3 linked regions of the Homo sapiens genome follow. The protein of the gene in region 1 interacts with the protein of each later gene in a biochemical or structural test. Each region holds a gene or a part of one and is shown on either strand. Other genes may lie near its edges. The genes, in order: USP21, NANOG and ISG15.

Evidence for each region.
Region 2: the proteins of USP21 (region 1) and NANOG form a complex in vitro, tested with the Homo sapiens proteins (3 studies listed by BioGRID, with this or other methods).
Region 3: the proteins of USP21 (region 1) and ISG15 form a complex in vitro, tested with the Homo sapiens proteins (2 studies listed by BioGRID, with this or other methods).

Annotation. Positions count from the first base shown.
Region 1 is NC_000001.11:161,157,815-161,161,561, forward strand, and holds the start of USP21 (ubiquitin carboxyl-terminal hydrolase 21), read left to right. Parts: upstream 1-1,685; 5' UTR 1,686-1,864; exon of another isoform or gene 1,865-1,886; coding exon of another isoform or gene 1,887-1,952; exon of another isoform or gene 1,953-2,551; 5' UTR 2,552-2,692; exon of another isoform or gene 2,693-2,805; coding exon of another isoform or gene 2,806-2,826; coding exon 2,827-3,426; intron 3,427-3,747. Other genes in the region: UFC1 (ubiquitin-fold modifier-conjugating enzyme 1), read left to right, coding at 307-397, 598-678. UniProt on the Homo sapiens protein: Deubiquitinates histone H2A, a specific tag for epigenetic transcriptional repression, thereby acting as a coactivator.
Region 2 is NC_000012.12:7,792,268-7,796,014, forward strand, and holds part of NANOG (homeobox protein NANOG), read left to right. Parts: intron 1-682; coding exon 683-945; intron 946-2,189; coding exon 2,190-2,276; intron 2,277-2,411; coding exon 2,412-2,828; 3' UTR 2,829-3,747. UniProt on the Homo sapiens protein: Transcription regulator involved in inner cell mass and embryonic stem (ES) cells proliferation and self-renewal. Imposes pluripotency on ES cells and prevents their differentiation towards extraembryonic endoderm and trophectoderm lineages.
Region 3 is NC_000001.11:1,011,281-1,015,027, forward strand, and holds ISG15 (ubiquitin-like protein ISG15), read left to right. Parts: upstream 1-2,216; 5' UTR 2,217-2,293; coding exon 2,294-2,296; intron 2,297-2,703; coding exon 2,704-3,198; 3' UTR 3,199-3,260; downstream 3,261-3,747.

The sequences.
Region 1 (3,747 bases):
ATGATCTATGTGTAAATCACCATGGCACGTTTACCTATGTAACAAACCTATACATCCTGCATGTGTACCTCTGAACTTAAAAGATGTAAGGAAAAAAAAAAAAAGGAAGAACTTTGGAGGCAGAGATTTTCCCAGGGTCTGCTGGCCTAGTGGGGTGCCAGGCCCTCCTTTGCTGAGCCTAAGCAAAGTACTTAGCTGAACTTGTTCTCAATTCTGATCACTAGTAGTCTTCCTATGCCCCCAAGAGGCTGCTGTGCTTTATGGTAAACTTTGCATGTCAACACCTTCTTCATGTCCCTCTCATAGGGGTGGCAAAATATGCCTGACGGATCATTTCAAACCTTTGTGGGCCAGGAATGTGCCCAAATTTGGACTAGCTCATCTCATGGCTCTGGGGGTAAGTTTTGTGTATTTGGCATAAAAGGAGAAAGAGGGACTTAGGCCCTGAGCAGTACAAGAAAAGCAGCTAAGAATAAAAGGAATAACAGTGATGTCCCTTAAGCATGTTCCCCCAGAATCTGTCTCCAGGAAGGAGCTTCTAATGGAACAAGAAGCATTGACTGGTAGTAATCTCACAGGATTTTCCTTGTATTGCAGCTGGGTCCATGGCTGGCAGTGGAAATCCCTGATCTGATTCAGAAGGGCGTCATCCAACACAAAGAGAAATGCAACCAATGAAGAATCAAGCCACTGAGGCAGGGCAGAGGGACCTTTGATAGGCTACGATACTATTTTCCTGTGCATCACACTTAACTCATCTAACTGCTTCCCCGGACACCCTCCACCTCTAGTTGTTACTAAGTAGCTGCAGTAGGCATTGCTGGGGAAGAAACAAACACACACCAAACAGTACTGCTACTTAGTTTCTAAGGCTGCACAGGGAAGGGAAAGACTGGGCTTTGGACAATCTAGAGGTAATTTATATCCGCCCCCAGGTGGAGCAACATGCGATTCTGGAGGCACGGGGGTAACTGAAAGTGAGTACATATAGTCTTTCTGGTTTCTGGAGATAACCCATCAATAAAAGCTGCTTCCTCTGGTAGCCTGTGGTTCTCATTGGGAGCTGTTAACAGAGGGCAAGTGGGCTGAAACCTGAGGCACATGAACAGCTACGCCGGGTTGGGTTGGGAAAGAGTCGGAAATAGGGGATGCTCTGGTCAGGAGTGGGAATGAAATGTTGACTGTTCCCCCTGCTGCTCAGATCTACCTTTGTCCTTTAGTGGTGAGCCATGCTTTGCCCTACCGTGTTAGCCTGCAAGAAGTGGTTTTGCCGGACCAGCACTTCCCGCCCTCCAGGGATCTTCCCAGCCCTCTGTGAAGTGCTAGATGCTTCTCCACTGGTCTGCGGGCTGGACCCAGGCCTGCAGTTTGCCATACTTGCGCCCCTGCTGTTTGGGAAGGATCTGTGCTGTAAGCCTCGCGGCCATACTACGACTGTCAGATCTCCATCCCTATGGGCTATAGGATGGGGCGACGGCACCCTATACCTCAGGGACTTGCTTTGGAGTCATGGATTAAAGACCTCTCTGGGCAGCGTTGAGAACCAGCGACCCTAAACTTGGCTGCGTTTCCATGGTGTCGATCGCGGAGCCGTGGGGGCGGGCTCACGCAAGCGCCAAGGGACCGGTGGGAGGAGTTCGGGTGTGGATGCGCAGGCGCTTTGAGAGACGGTGAAGCCGGTGGCCGGTGGCCGGGCGGGACCAACAAAGATGGCGGCGGCCCCTGCGGCGGGAGCGATCTGGGCAACGGCTGCGGCTAAAGCTGCAGCCGGGCCCACGGGGGGGCTGCACGGGGGTAGTAGGGGGTGGCCCTGAACTGGGGCCTGGCCCTGGCTGGCCTCTCCCGCCGCCTCACTGGGGGACAGGTACGGGCCGGGGCGTTATGGCATGGCGGGGTGTGGGGGGGCGCAGAGGGAAGACTGCTCCAGACCCGAGAGGACACTCTCCACAAAGGCGCGTGGGGCCCGGCGGGGCCTGGGAGAACTGGGCTGGAGGGACAGCATCCCTGGACCGCGGGGAATACGCCGCCGGATTCCGTAGCCAATCAGCGGTCTCGGCCTTTCTGCCCTCGAGGGGGGCGGACCCGGCTAAAGCCCTGCTGTGGTGGGAGAAGTGCAGAGATTAAGGGTCAAGGAGTTGTTCGTCCTCCATCCCCGACTACTGCTTTCTGAACCTCGACACCATGTCGGAGGTCGGAGGTGGGGGAGGGAATGGATCGTAAGTCACCCATATAGTCTGCTTCATTTGCAGCCCAGAGAGGCAGGGATTCGAGGATGGAGGGCTGTCTTTTGGGCTGTTATTCTTGCATCTACACTACCATTTGGCTAGGGTCTTAAGTGACCCGAGGCACATCCTACTTTACTAGCCGGGTATGGGGTCCCATGTTACGTTAGAGCCGAGATAGGAGTTATCACTGGCTTTTCAGTAAAGATGTGTTCTGCAGGGAGGGGTCGGGAGTATAGAAAGGGTCAAAGCCATGGGCTGCTTATCTTTCATTCATTTGTTTACCCAATAGATACTAAGTATTTACTTTGTACCAAACACGATGCCAGGTACTGGGGATACGATGGCTGATTCGATAGATCTGGTTCCTGCCCTCAGTGCGTATACTGCTCCCCACTTTCGTTGATGTGGTAGTGGTGATGACTGAGCCAACCACCTAATGTGGAAATGAGAGGACAGCAAGATTGTGGGTATGGAATGGGGCAAAGCAATAAGGGAAAATTAGTGTGGCAGGGTTCAGTACAGCAGCCTGGGTTCCCATTTCCCCCCATATTCAAATGCTGACACTCTCTTCTCCTCCCAGGTCCAGCCTGTGGTGTCCACAATGCCCCAGGCCTCTGAGCACCGCCTGGGCCGTACCCGAGAGCCACCTGTTAATATCCAGCCCCGAGTGGGATCCAAGCTACCATTTGCCCCCAGGGCCCGCAGCAAGGAGCGCAGAAACCCAGCCTCTGGGCCAAACCCCATGTTACGACCTCTGCCTCCCCGGCCAGGTCTGCCTGATGAACGGCTCAAGAAACTGGAGCTGGGACGGGGACGGACCTCAGGCCCTCGTCCCAGAGGCCCCCTTCGAGCAGATCATGGGGTTCCCCTGCCTGGCTCACCACCCCCAACAGTGGCTTTGCCTCTCCCATCTCGGACCAACTTAGCCCGTTCCAAGTCTGTGAGCAGTGGGGACTTGCGTCCAATGGGGATTGCCTTGGGAGGGCACCGTGGCACCGGAGAGCTTGGGGCTGCACTGAGCCGCTTGGCCCTCCGGCCTGAGCCACCCACTTTGAGACGTAGCACTTCTCTCCGCCGCCTAGGGGGCTTTCCTGGACCCCCTACCCTGTTCAGCATACGGACAGAGCCCCCTGCTTCCCATGGCTCCTTCCACATGATATCCGCCCGGTCCTCTGAGCCTTTCTACTCTGATGACAAGATGGTGAGGACTTGCCACACACATGGCCTTCATGCCCATGTTCCTCTGTGCTTTCCTGCCATCCTCTGCCTTTTCTGTCCCCCATTTCCCTGAAGTTCCTTTCTCAGCCCTTCATTACAGCAGTTTGGACATGCCTCTCCCTTGCTTAAATACCCTTGAGCCTCCTAGACCCTTTTTTGGGTTGTTGGTGACTCTTCAGCATGGTGTGCCATTTCGGTCCCCAGGGGATTACCCCAACTATTTAGAATTCTTCTTTGGGTCCCCAGGCCCTTCCTTTCCCTTGCTTGCACCTTCTCTACTGGGACTCTGCCTAGGCCTAATTAA
Region 2 (3,747 bases), on another chromosome or scaffold:
ACAAAGTGATTTAGGGTGAGATGCAATACGTGAAAATTGGTGAATCTCCATTCTGACCTATTAACACCCAGTGTGGGAGCTTTTGAGCATCAGTTTAAAGCAAAAGGTGGTAGCGCCGGCCTGATGAGGTGGCTCACACCTGTAATCTCAGTACTTCGGGAGGCCGAGGCAGGCGGATCACGAGGTCAGGAGTTCGAGACCAGCCTCACCAACATTGAGAAACCCTGTCTCTACTAAAAATACAAAATTAGCCAGGCGTGATGGTGCCTGCCTGTAATCCCAGCTACTCAGGAGGCTGAGGCAGGAGAATCGCTTGAACCCAGGAGATGGAGGTTGCAGTGAGCCGAGATTGCACCATCGCACTTCAGCCTGGGCAACAAGAGTGAACCTCCATCCTAATTTTAAAAAAAAGGGGTAGCGCCGCTCAGCAATGCATTGGCCACCATTATAGATCTCTCCCAACGCAGTCTATTATGTACAAAATGGAGATACTGATAAGACTTCTTGGAGTAATACTATATAAAGCTTGCCAAAGTGCCAGGGCTGCTTAAGAAATTGCTTCTTATTACTTAGATCTGGGGTTCTGGGAATTATCAAAGTACTTTGAAAACAATTTTTTTAAAGGATATTTTAATATTTGAAAAATTTTAGACAAAAGTGTCCTTTTATTTGTTCCCAACAGTCTCTCCTCTTCCTTCCTCCATGGATCTGCTTATTCAGGACAGCCCTGATTCTTCCACCAGTCCCAAAGGCAAACAACCCACTTCTGCAGAGAAGAGTGTCGCAAAAAAGGAAGACAAGGTCCCGGTCAAGAAACAGAAGACCAGAACTGTGTTCTCTTCCACCCAGCTGTGTGTACTCAATGATAGATTTCAGAGACAGAAATACCTCAGCCTCCAGCAGATGCAAGAACTCTCCAACATCCTGAACCTCAGCTACAAACAGGTAGGCTTGTTTTGTCCTTGGAATAAGGTGAACAAAAATTGGACTAATTTGCATGGCTAAGACCTCTGTGGATGCATGTAGATGTGTGTACTATGTGTCCGTACATCGCCTCTTGCAAATAATTTATGAAGATGAAATGCTTTTGTAACTTCCTTCACCTCTTTCTTTCCTTAAATATTCTATTATGTGAATAATTATGTCATAATTTAACCACTTTCTTGCACAGACCAATATTGTGAAAATCTTTCCAACGTTTCCTTAATAAAAAAGAAGTATCTAACTCCACTTACCAGGGTAGGAGAAACCCTAACTCACACTGGTTCTCATTAAAATAAAAACTTTTTTTTTCCTTTTTTTCTTTCTGCCAGCAACTCCAGCTTGTTTTGTTTTTTATCTGTGTGCATTCAATAAGGCCAATCATTGTTTATTACTTGTTGGCCATTTTCCTTCATTAATTGGCTTATCCTCTTCTAGGCTTTATTTCCTTCTTTTCTTTTGTTTATTTTTGAGACGGAGTCTCACTCTGTCTCCCAGGCTGGAGTGCAGTGGCCTCATAATGAGACATCATAATGACATTAGCATTACTTGGTTTAAGTACAAATGGATGAAACCTCCACCTCCTGGGTTCAAGGGATTCTCCTGCCTCAGCCTCCCAAGTAGCTGGGATTACAGGCGCCCGCCACTACACCTGGCTAATTTTACTGTATTTTTTAGTAGAGATGGGGCTTCACCATGTTGGCCAGGCTGGTTTTCAACTCCTGACCTCAAGTGATCCACGTGCCTCTGCCTCCTAAAGTGCTAGGATTACAGGTGTGAACTACCACACCCGGCCCTTGCCTTTATTTTCTATCCAAAATGTTCATTTCTCTCTTTTTTTCTGAGACAGTCTGGTTCTGTTGTCACGCAGCTGGAGTGCAGTGATGCAATCTTGGCTCACTGCAGCCTTCACTTCCCAGGTGCAAGCGATCCTCCCGTCTCAGCCTCCTGAGAAGCTGGGACCACAGACGTGCAGCATTACACCCGGCTAATTTTTTGTATTTTTGTAGACACGGTGTTTCCTCATGTTGGCTAGCCTGTAGCGAACTCCTGGGCTCAAGCAATCTGCCCGCCTTGGCCTTCCAAAGTGTTGGGATTACAGGCATGAGATATGGCACCTGGCCAGGAATAAAAGTTAGCAATATACTTTGATTCAAAGTACCTCTGTATTATGAATATTTTACAATTTCTATCATTTTTTCCTGCAGGTGAAGACCTGGTTCCAGAACCAGAGAATGAAATCTAAGAGGTGGCAGAAAAACAACTGGCCGAAGAATAGCAATGGTGTGACGCAGGTAACAGGAAACTTCATTCTGTTCTTTCCTTTCAGTGATCTTTCAATCTTGTCCATCCCTGAAACACACAACTCCAGTCACAGACAGTTCTGGTTGTCCTTGTACCCTTTCTGTTAATCCCTCCTTCTCTTTCAGAAGGCCTCAGCACCTACCTACCCCAGCCTTTACTCTTCCTACCACCAGGGATGCCTGGTGAACCCGACTGGGAACCTTCCAATGTGGAGCAACCAGACCTGGAACAATTCAACCTGGAGCAACCAGACCCAGAACATCCAGTCCTGGAGCAACCACTCCTGGAACACTCAGACCTGGTGCACCCAATCCTGGAACAATCAGGCCTGGAACAGTCCCTTCTATAACTGTGGAGAGGAATCTCTGCAGTCCTGCATGCAGTTCCAGCCAAATTCTCCTGCCAGTGACTTGGAGGCTGCCTTGGAAGCTGCTGGGGAAGGCCTTAATGTAATACAGCAGACCACTAGGTATTTTAGTACTCCACAAACCATGGATTTATTCCTAAACTACTCCATGAACATGCAACCTGAAGACGTGTGAAGATGAGTGAAACTGATATTACTCAATTTCAGTCTGGACACTGGCTGAATCCTTCCTCTCCCCTCCTCCCATCCCTCATAGGATTTTTCTTGTTTGGAAACCACGTGTTCTGGTTTCCATGATGCCCATCCAGTCAATCTCATGGAGGGTGGAGTATGGTTGGAGCCTAATCAGCGAGGTTTCTTTTTTTTTTTTTTTCCTATTGGATCTTCCTGGAGAAAATACTTTTTTTTTTTTTTTTTTTGAAACGGAGTCTTGCTCTGTCGCCCAGGCTGGAGTGCAGTGGCGCGGTCTTGGCTCACTGCAAGCTCCGTCTCCCGGGTTCACGCCATTCTCCTGCCTCAGCCTCCCGAGCAGCTGGGACTACAGGCGCCCGCCACCTCGCCCGGCTAATATTTTGTATTTTTAGTAGAGACGGGGTTTCACTGTGTTAGCCAGGATGGTCTCGATCTCCTGACCTTGTGATCCACCCGCCTCGGCCTCCCTAACAGCTGGGATTTACAGGCGTGAGCCACCGCGCCCTGCCTAGAAAAGACATTTTAATAACCTTGGCTGCCGTCTCTGGCTATAGATAAGTAGATCTAATACTAGTTTGGATATCTTTAGGGTTTAGAATCTAACCTCAAGAATAAGAAATACAAGTACAAATTGGTGATGAAGATGTATTCGTATTGTTTGGGATTGGGAGGCTTTGCTTATTTTTTAAAAACTATTGAGGTAAAGGGTTAAGCTGTAACATACTTAATTGATTTCTTACCGTTTTTGGCTCTGTTTTGCTATATCCCCTAATTTGTTGGTTGTGCTAATCTTTGTAGAAAGAGGTCTCGTATTTGCTGCATCGTAATGACATGAGTACTGCTTTAGTTGGTTTAAGTTCAAATGAATGAAACAACTATTTTTCCTTTAGTTGATTTTACCC
Region 3 (3,747 bases), about 160 Mb from region 1:
CCGCCTCAGCCTCCCGAAATGCCGGCATTACAGGCATGAGCCGCCTGGCCTGGATAGATGTTTATGATACACTGTTGCATGAATGAAGCAGGTTACAAAACAGTGAAAGTATGGTGAGGCCTTTTCACCTTTGCTTTTTATTGATGTGAAATTCATATAACATAAAACTAACCATTTTAAAGAATGAAATCCAGTGGCGTTTAGTTATTTACCACGTTGTCCAACCATCACCTCTGTGGAGTTCTGAAACATTGTCACCCCCAAAGGGGCTTGTGGCTCTGAAGCAATCACCCCCCACTCCCCCTCCCTGGCCCCCGGTAACGGGGTCGGCTTCCTGTGCTGCGGCTCTACCAGTTCCGGTCGTTTCCCCTGCGGTGAATGGAACCAACACTCTGCGGCCTTCGTGTCTGGCTCTTTCCACTTAGCATAACGTTTTCAAGGTTCTTTCACATGAATCAGTGCCTCAGTCCTTTTCATGGCTGCATAATATTCCGTTGTGTGGACATTCCACACTTTGTGTGTCCATCCATCACTGATGGACATGTGCTCCGTTCCTGCTACTTGTTTATTGTAAACTGTGCTGCCATGGACATTTGTATGCAAGTATTTGAACACCTATTTTCAATTCTTTTGGACACATGCCTAGAAGTGGAACTGCTGGGTTCCCAATAATTCTGTTGAACGTTTTGAGCATCGCGGCGGCCGCACTGTTTTACATTCTCAACAGCAATGCATGTACCAGGATTCCAGTTCCTCTATGTATTCCCCAGTGCTTGTTACTGCCTTTATGTTTATTTTATATTATTTTTTGAGACTGTCTTGCTCTGCTGCCCAGGCTGGAGTGCATTGGTGCAATCTTGGCTCACCACAATCTCTGCCTCCTGGGTTCAAGGGATTCTCCCGCCTCAGCCTCCCAAGTAGCTGGGATTACAGGCGTGCACCACCACGCCCAGCTAATTTTTGTATTTTTAGTAGAGATGGGGTTTCTACTAAAAATGTTGGCCAGGCTGGTCTCAAACTCCTGACCTTAGGTGATCCGCCCGCCTCAGCCTCCCAAAGTGTTGGGATTGCAGGCGTGAGCCACCGCACCCGGCCTGGCCTTTATTTTTATTATTACAGTCATACCAGCAGGAAATAGCATCTCACTGGGGTTTTGATTTGCATTTCCCCAATTAATAATGATGTTGAACATCACTTTACAGCCGTTTCTATGTCATTGGAGAAATGTCTATTGAAGTCTTTTGGCCATTTGAAAATTGAGTTGCCTTTTTTTTTTATTTTTATTTTTTATTGAGTTGTAAGAGTTCTCTATATGTCCTGGATGCTATGCCCTCATCAGATAGATAATTTGCAAATATTTCTTCCCATTCTATGGATTGTCTTTTCACTTTCTCAATAGTGTCCCAGAGTTCATTTTTGTAGAAAATAAAAGATAGGTCTCTTTTATTAAAAAACAATCTGAGGCTCCGGGTGCAGTGGCTCACGCCTGTAATCCCAGCAGTTTCAGAGGCCGAGGCAGGTGGATCACTTGAGCCCAGGAGTTCGAGATCAGCCTGGGCGACATGGCGAGACCCCCATCTCTACTAAAAATACAAAAAATTAGCCGGGCCTGGTGGTGCACCCCTGTGGTCCCAGCTACGTGGGAGGCTGAGGTGAGAGGATCGCTTTAGCCTGGCAGGCGGAGGTTGCAATGAGATGAGATCGTGCCTCTGCACTCCAGCCTGGGCGACAGAGTGAGAGACCCTGTCTCAAAAACACAAAAACAACAACAAAAAAACACCAATCTGAGCAAATACTGCCCTAAACCGAGTGTTGTTATCTCTGGGTAGTTTGGAGTTCTTGTTTCTCAATTAACCATGGGGATGTTTTCCAAGTTTACTAATTTTGCAAGTTGGTAAATGGAAAATGAAACCATTAGTCCATGTGATGACAGCTTTAGTGCATCCTGTGAAGGATCTGGAATGCGCGATATTTAGGTGTTTCCAGGGTGTTGGGTGGGGGTGGGGATGCCGTCCGCTGTCCGGAGTCCCCGCCACTTTTGCTTTTCCCTGTCTTTCGGTCATTCGGTTTTGTTTCTTCCGCTCACTCTGGGGCATGCCTCGGGAAAGGGAAACCGAAACTGAAGCCAAATTTGGCCACCAGCGCAGGCTCGGCGGCACGCCCCCTGACGTGTGTGCCTCAGGCTTATAATAGGGCCGGTGCTGCCTGCCGAAGCCGGCGGCTGAGAGGCAGCGAACTCATCTTTGCCAGTACAGGAGCTTGTGCCGTGGCCCACAGCCCACAGCCCACAGCCATGGTAAGGCAGATGTCACAGGTGGGGGGAGGTGGGCTCTGTGCCAGCCAATTTTCGTCTCCCTCCCCCAGCCAAGGTCTCCCAGGGGTGCAGGGAGAGCGGAGCTGCTCAGAGCTTGGCCAGGTTCTAAGTGTGCTCCTGAAAGCAGGTCACCCCTGAGATCCTCAGGGTGGGGCACAGAGGGGCACCCTAGCAGGTAAAGGGAGGCCACGGGATGGCGGTGGGCAGCTGGCCTTCTAGTAACGAGCCCTCAGTGCCTTCTGTGCCTGGGGTCCCTGCCGGCGGGATGTAGAGGACAGACAGGAGGGAGCACTGTCCCTGGGTACAGGAGCTCGCCCTGCAGCCAGTGCCTTGTGTGTGGTGGGCCTGGGGCTGGCGCCGCAGTCTCTGAACCTGTGTGACGCCTGCAGGGCTGGGACCTGACGGTGAAGATGCTGGCGGGCAACGAATTCCAGGTGTCCCTGAGCAGCTCCATGTCGGTGTCAGAGCTGAAGGCGCAGATCACCCAGAAGATCGGCGTGCACGCCTTCCAGCAGCGTCTGGCTGTCCACCCGAGCGGTGTGGCGCTGCAGGACAGGGTCCCCCTTGCCAGCCAGGGCCTGGGCCCCGGCAGCACGGTCCTGCTGGTGGTGGACAAATGCGACGAACCTCTGAGCATCCTGGTGAGGAATAACAAGGGCCGCAGCAGCACCTACGAGGTACGGCTGACGCAGACCGTGGCCCACCTGAAGCAGCAAGTGAGCGGGCTGGAGGGTGTGCAGGACGACCTGTTCTGGCTGACCTTCGAGGGGAAGCCCCTGGAGGACCAGCTCCCGCTGGGGGAGTACGGCCTCAAGCCCCTGAGCACCGTGTTCATGAATCTGCGCCTGCGGGGAGGCGGCACAGAGCCTGGCGGGCGGAGCTAAGGGCCTCCACCAGCATCCGAGCAGGATCAAGGGCCGGAAATAAAGGCTGTTGTAAAGAGAAATGGCCGCCTCTGTGTCTGTGCTTGCCCCTCCTCCAGCGTCCGCCTCAGACCCCTGGTGATGGGGCGGGAGAAGTCAGGAGGGAGAACCCAGGGTCCATCCTGGTGACCAGGCCTGGGCTGCCAAGTGAAGGGATAAGGGTTTGCAGTTACAGCTTCGAGGGATCAAAATAGGGAGCCCCCCACCCCGAAACTGAAGTAAGACAGCTCTCCCCACCCTTTGGGAAATTAACTTCTAGGAAAAGAAAAAGAGACACAGTTGCTGGAGCCCATCCTGCCTGTCCTCCATCTGGGACAGCAGACGGCTTAGGCAGGGACCCGCCTGATCAGATCAAAAGGGGAGGCTCCCAGTGGGCCCCTGGGAGCAGTAAGGGGTGAGTCCTTGGGGCCTGCCCGGTGGGCTGTGAGGCAGGCTCTCCATAGGAACTGGGGGCTGGGGACCTCAGCCGTCCCTAGCCCAGCCTACACAGCCTGCTCCACCTGCCTGGGC